Linked DNA regions of Homo sapiens: region 2 is linked to region 1. The links come from fine-mapping of genetic effects on gene expression. A gene starts in region 1. The other region holds a variant in brackets. All regions are shown on one strand. Distances are from middle to middle.

Evidence for each region. PIP is the estimated chance that this variant, and not a neighbour inherited with it, causes the effect. A credible set is the group of variants that fine-mapping cannot tell apart.
Region 2: its variant is the best candidate, but not a certain one, in a credible set for the expression of LAMP1 in monocytes after R848 (Quach 2016, PIP 0.88).

What each region holds. Positions count from the first base shown.
Region 1 is chr13:113,296,043-113,298,945 of GRCh38, reverse strand. LAMP1 (lysosomal associated membrane protein 1) reads right to left here and starts at 1,707. Exons shown (of 9, transcript NM_005561.4): 1 at 1,451-1,707. The coding sequence starts at 1,511. RefSeq lists an enhancer at 887-1,066 and a silencer at 1,297-1,576.
Region 2 is chr13:113,376,189-113,379,091 of GRCh38, reverse strand. It overlaps LOC124903218 (a long non-coding RNA gene), which reads left to right. Exons shown (of 2, transcript XR_007063881.1): 1 at 1-193; 2 at 2,450-2,747. Among named protein-coding and RNA genes, the nearest start is that of GRTP1, 14 kb to the right of the region's middle. RefSeq lists an enhancer at 1-438. The variant A/GA (reference allele first, on the strand shown) is at 1,575.

The sequences.
Region 1 (2,903 bases):
TGGTCTCGAACTCCTGACGCCATGATCCATCTGCCTCGGCCACCCAAAGTGTTGGGATTAAAGGCGTGAGCCACTGCTCCCGGCCTGAAGTGAGTTTTTAAAACATGAAACAAAACATCAAAGTTATGAGGCTTGTGAGCATCTGTAACAAAGAACAATGCAGTTGCTGTGACATGACAAAACTTGTTTCTGCAACTCCTTTCATTAACTACACCTGACCCTGTCGCAGGAGCTGAGCAAGGCTTCAGGCTTACTATTGGAATAAGTTCATCTCTGTGGCTATTCAGGCAGTTCAAAGAATTCATTTTACACAACAGGCAAAACAAAAAAGGGAAGCCAAGATCCATTCACTCACAGTAACAGAGTTTTACAGCTGGATGGGACTGAGGGATTTAAAGAAGTCAAGGCAGATGTGTACAGGAGTGTATTTCTATATCTACTTAACTCACACACACTCCCCCAGCTTGATTCTACATCACCTTTCAGATCCTGGCATTTAAGATAATCTTCTCATATTACGGGGGAGGGCGGCGGGGGGAGGAGGTGAAAGAATAGTGTTGGCGGGGGGCAATCCGGACTGTCTTAAAGAGACAGCACACATCCTCTTATTAAGACAATAAATGAGAACGAAATTCACTAGTCAATACAATATTGAGCACCTACTGCCCATCTGAGCTCTATAAACTGACAGAAGAGAAGGGTGCTTCCCCACGTGTTCCCTGGTCCCGCATTTCGGCCTACAGGAACGGCGCTCTTTAAACTACTTACTAGACATGAACATTGCCACCGTGAGTCTGAGGCCAGCTTTCCCTCATCTTGTCTACTACGGAATCTTGTGAAATCCCAAAGATAACTTTAAAAATTATTTTAACATACATGTGAATTCACAATAACATAAATACACTCGCATCTCCTCCACACCGCTGAAAGAGGAGAAAGGTTCAAGTACAAAGGTGGGGAATGCTCGCACCGGCTTCTCCCTGTCCTGGGTGAAATCCATGTTGGGAAGAGCTTGATCTAGGTCACCCACCCGGGAGCTGAGACCACAGACGTCCCTGCCACCTTCGGCGGCGCAGCCTCGTCTAGATCTCACCGCCTCAACTTGCCAGGAAACTTAACGACCTGAAAGCACCAGACCGCCGAGCAAGCCATCGGAAGTTCCCTTTCGCACTCACCACCACAGAAAAACTGAGTTCAGTGAGACAGACCTTAGAGGAGCCAGGTCCTGGGATGAGACCTCCTGGTCCCCCAAGCACCTGCCATTGAGCTCCGCTCCGACCCTACGACCCCGAGAGAAACACCCGCCCGCGGGCAGAGCCGGCCGGGACCAGGAGCAGTGGGTGCGGGGCGACCCGCGGGACAACGACCCGGCAGTCCCCCGCCCTCAAGACCCAGGGACCTCGGCTCCGCCCGGTCCCGCCGCTCCCAGGCCCCGCCTCGACCCCCTCACCGAGCAGCAGCAACAGCAGTAGCAGCAGCAGGGGTCGCCGGGCGCTGCCGGGGGCCGCCATGGCGCGAGGCGGCCGGGTACGGTGCGGGGAGCGGGGGCGCGGGCGGCGGTTGGGCCGCGGACTGCCGGGCGCTGCGGTGGCGGGGCGCGGGCGCCAAGGGCTGGCGTTAGAGACAGCGGCGTTACCAGACGCAAGAGGCCCGGCCACTGCGACGCCGGCACGAAGAAGACACCGCGGCCGGCAGCGCTTGTCACGTGAGCTGCGCCGCGCCCGGGCGTCACGTGATCCCGCGGGTCTCGCGAGAGCGCGCGCGTCGAGCGCCGGCGGCTCGGCTCCCCGCAGGTGCGGCAGCTTCCAGCACCGCGCGCCCCCTCACGCGTGATGCAGGCCGACACGTGACCCGCAGCGGCACGTGACCCGCAGCGGCACGTGACCCTGGACCCACGTGACCCGGCCTGGTCCGGGGGACTGGGGCCGAGCCGAGGTCCTGAAACGGGAAGTGGGCTGGGTTCGCGGAAAAGGAAGAGGAAGAGTAGTGGCGGGAGAAAGTGAGGAAAGAGGAAGCCCGCGAGGGGAGAAAGGGCAGACGGATCGCGGACGCCCAGGCCTCCCTTCAGCCTGCGAGGCGTCCCAAACGCGGGCTCTTTATGGACAGGAGGGTGGTGTGGGTGGCAGCGCGGGTGACCGGCCGGGTGCGCGGCCAGGGATGGGCGAAGGGTTTGTCTTTTGGTGAGTGGGAAGCAAGTTCCTCACACAGGGAGGCCACTGTGCCCAAACTCTTGAGTGGTTTTAGGAAGGAAATAAGGGATCTGAAATGGGTCAGTGCGGCCTTCCGCTCGTTAATCGCGGGCTGAGGGAAGACGGCACCAGGCTGCCCAAGGTGAAGGTGAAGGTGCGATGGCGATACTCTTTGGCTTACAGAAAGTTCCTGTCGAGCACTTTGTTTTTTTTTTTGAGACGGAGTCTCGCTCTGTCGCCCAGGCTGGAGTGCAGTGGCGCGATCTCGGCTCGCTGTAACCTCCGCCTCCCGGGTTCAAGCGATTCTCTTGCCTCAGCCTCCCAAGTAGCTGGGATTACAGGCGTGCGCCACCACGCCCGGCTGATTTTGTATGTTGAGTAGAGACGGGGTTTCACCAGTTGGCCAGGCTGGTCTCGAACTCCTGACCTCAAGCAATCCACCCGCCTCGGCCTCCCAAAGTGCTGAGATTACAGCCCTGAGCCACGGCGCCTGGCTCCTGCATTTTAGAAGTCTGAAGATGCTCTGTTTTTTGGCTTGTCATCATATAGGATTTATGGCCTTTTGTTAAAATACTATTTAATTAAGGCCCCTACGCTACTGCTTTGTATAAAGCACCCGTCGCATAAGTACCTACATCTTAGAAAAAGATTTAATCTTACATTTCAAAAGGCATCATAGCAACGGGGACTGGATGTGCACCTAGTTAATAGAGA
Region 2 (2,903 bases), 80 kb before region 1:
GGAACATTGATTGACAGAAATGGCGCTGACCAGCCAGGCCCTGCCCGTGCCCTGCTTGGAACATTGATTGACAGAAATGGCGCTGACCAGCCAGGCCCTGCCTGTGCCCTGCTTGGAACATTGATCATGTGTTTGACCTTGACATCAGCTTTCCGACACAAACACAGACTTGGGCACACACAAACACGCCCAGGTAGGAGCAAAACGCCATCATTCTGTTTGGGGTGGTCCCTGATGAATCAGCACAAGTTTGCCGGACGCGGTGGCTCTCATGCCTGTAATCCCAGCACTTTGGGAGGCCGAGGTGGGCAGATCACAAGGTCAGGAGATCGAGACCATCCTGGCTAACACAGCAAAACCCCGTCTCTATTAAAAATACAAAAAATTAGCCAGGCGTGGTGGTGGGCACCTGTAGTCCCAGCTACTCGGGAGGCTGAGGCAGTAGAATGGCGTGAACCTGGGAGGCAGAGCTTGCAGTGAGCAGAGATCGTGCCACTGCTGTCCAGCCTACGTGACAGAGCGGGACTGTCTCAAAAAAAAAAAAGAAGAGGGTAGGGGAAAAGAGTCATTCATGCCTCTGTCTGCCTCAGTGAATCTGTATTTTTACATAAGATCACACAGACAAAATGGGGCAGGGAAACAATTGGGTATGCATTTGTGTCTGATGGGCCATGGGTGACTGCACCTGTAAAGATGAGGAATCAGTTTACATTGCCATAGTGAAATCTTTATGGAAACACCTTAGAGTAAAGATCTCGGAGCTCAGTAAAAATTTCCTTGTGGGCAAAATATTAGGGAGGTATGGAGCTTCTCATCTTGCAGCCATCTTATTTAGAAACCAAAAGGGGAGGCAAGTTTGCATGATCCAGTCCCCAACTTGACTTTTTCCTTTGGCTAAATGAGTTTGGGGTCTCAAGATTTAATTTCCTTTCACAGATCACAGGTGTGAGCTACTGTGCCTGGCCTACGTAACACATTTACTAAACAACCTTGTTCACTACACACTTCCTGGTCACCTTCCCGTTTCTTACCTGCCCTCCAAAAGCCCAAACCCCCTTATCCGTTGTCTAGCCTGAACCCTGACGCAGCCTCAGGAGATCCTGAGGACACAGGCTACAGCGTGGTTTTCTACATTTTAGGGAGACAGGAGACATCATTCAATACATGTAAGGTGAACACTGCGGTCTGGAAAGGCGGGACAACTTGAAGGACGCGGGGGTGGGCTTCAGGTCATAGGTGATTTTCAGATTGTCAGTCGTTTGAAAGAGTTTATCTAAAGGCCAGGAATTGGCCGGGCGCAGTGGCTCACACCTGTAATCCCAGCACTTTGGGAGGCCGAGGGGGGCAGATCACGAGGTCAGGAAATCCAGACCAGCCTGGCCAACATGGTGAAACCCTGTCTCTACTAAAAATACAAAAATTAGCTGGGCCTGGTGGTGCACGCCTGTAATCCCAGCTACTCGGGAGGCTGAGGCAGGAGAATCGCTTGAACCCAGGAGGCAGAGGTTGCAGTGAGCCGAGATCACGCCACTGCATTCCGGCCTGGCGACAGAGTGAGACTCCATCTCAGAAAA[A/GA]AAAAAAAAAAAAAAAAAGACCTGGAATCAATACAAAGAGGTGTGTCTGGGTTAAGATAAGAGCATGGCCGGGCGCGGTGGCTCACGCCTGTAATCCCAGCACTTTGGGAGGCCGAGGCAGGCGGATCACGAGGTCAGGAGATGGAGACCATCCTGGCTAACACGGTGAAACCCCGTCTCTACTAAAAATACAAAAAATTAGCCGGGCATGGTGGCGGGCACCTGTAGTCCCAGCTACTGAGGAGGCTGAGGCAGGAGAATGGCGTGAACCCGGGAGGTGGAGCTTGCAGCGAGCGGAGATTGAGCCACTGTACTCCAGCCTGGGGCGACAGAGCGAGACTCTGTCTCAAAAAAAAAAAAAAAAAAAAAGAGCTTGTGGAGACCAAGGTTCTTATTATGCAGATGAAGCCTCCAGGTATCAGGCTTCAGAGACAATAGATTGCAAATCTTTCTTTTCAGACTTAAGAAGGCACCAGACCCAGTGAATTCTCTCCTGGATCAGGGGAAAGATTCTGGCCACCTGCTTCGGCCACTTTTTTTTTTTTTTGGCCAGCCACTGTGAATACTTACATAATTAAAATTGTCTTTTTCTCTTGTTAATCTGCCTGATCACGTTGATTCCCAGGTCCAAGGAATTCCCAGGTCCCTCAAGCAATAGATTAGAGGAAGTGTTTTGTTTTGCTTTGACTTCTTCCTCTATATTAGTAAAAGTATGTCTCACTCTGGGTGTCCTGTATTTGCATTTTTATTTGCTAAATCCAGTAACGCTATTCCAGGTGTAAGTAGGTTTCTCTGGACGTACAACTTTCATCTCACGAATCTTTATATTACTGCTCCTAAATTCTAACCTAGACAATGTCATTATTTTTCAACAGTAAAAATAGTCTGAATTAAGCCTTCCAGATGCGTACTCCCTTCTTTCCTGAGGCAGATGAAGTAGAGAAGAATGAAGGCAATTAACAAATCTGGACGAATCCACCCCAGAAGCAGCTCCTGCTGCACCCACCTCAGCAAAGAATCCAGAGGCGACCCCTCCTCTCCATCTGCTCCTCCTCCAGGCCACTGTCCTCTCTAACCCTTCTCACTGGCCCCTGCCTCCACTCTTGTCAGACAGCAAGCTACAGAATAACTGGGGAAATACTTTTTAAAAAAATAAATCAGACCACATCAGGCTCTTCAGCATGGAAATGTGGCCGCAGCCCATGGGCCAGCCCACCAGTGCCGATCATCCCCATCACACCCCATTAGTCCCCATCGGACCCCTTCATCCCCATCAGACTCCATCAGACCCCAACAGACCCCATCAGTCACCACCAGATGCCATCACAC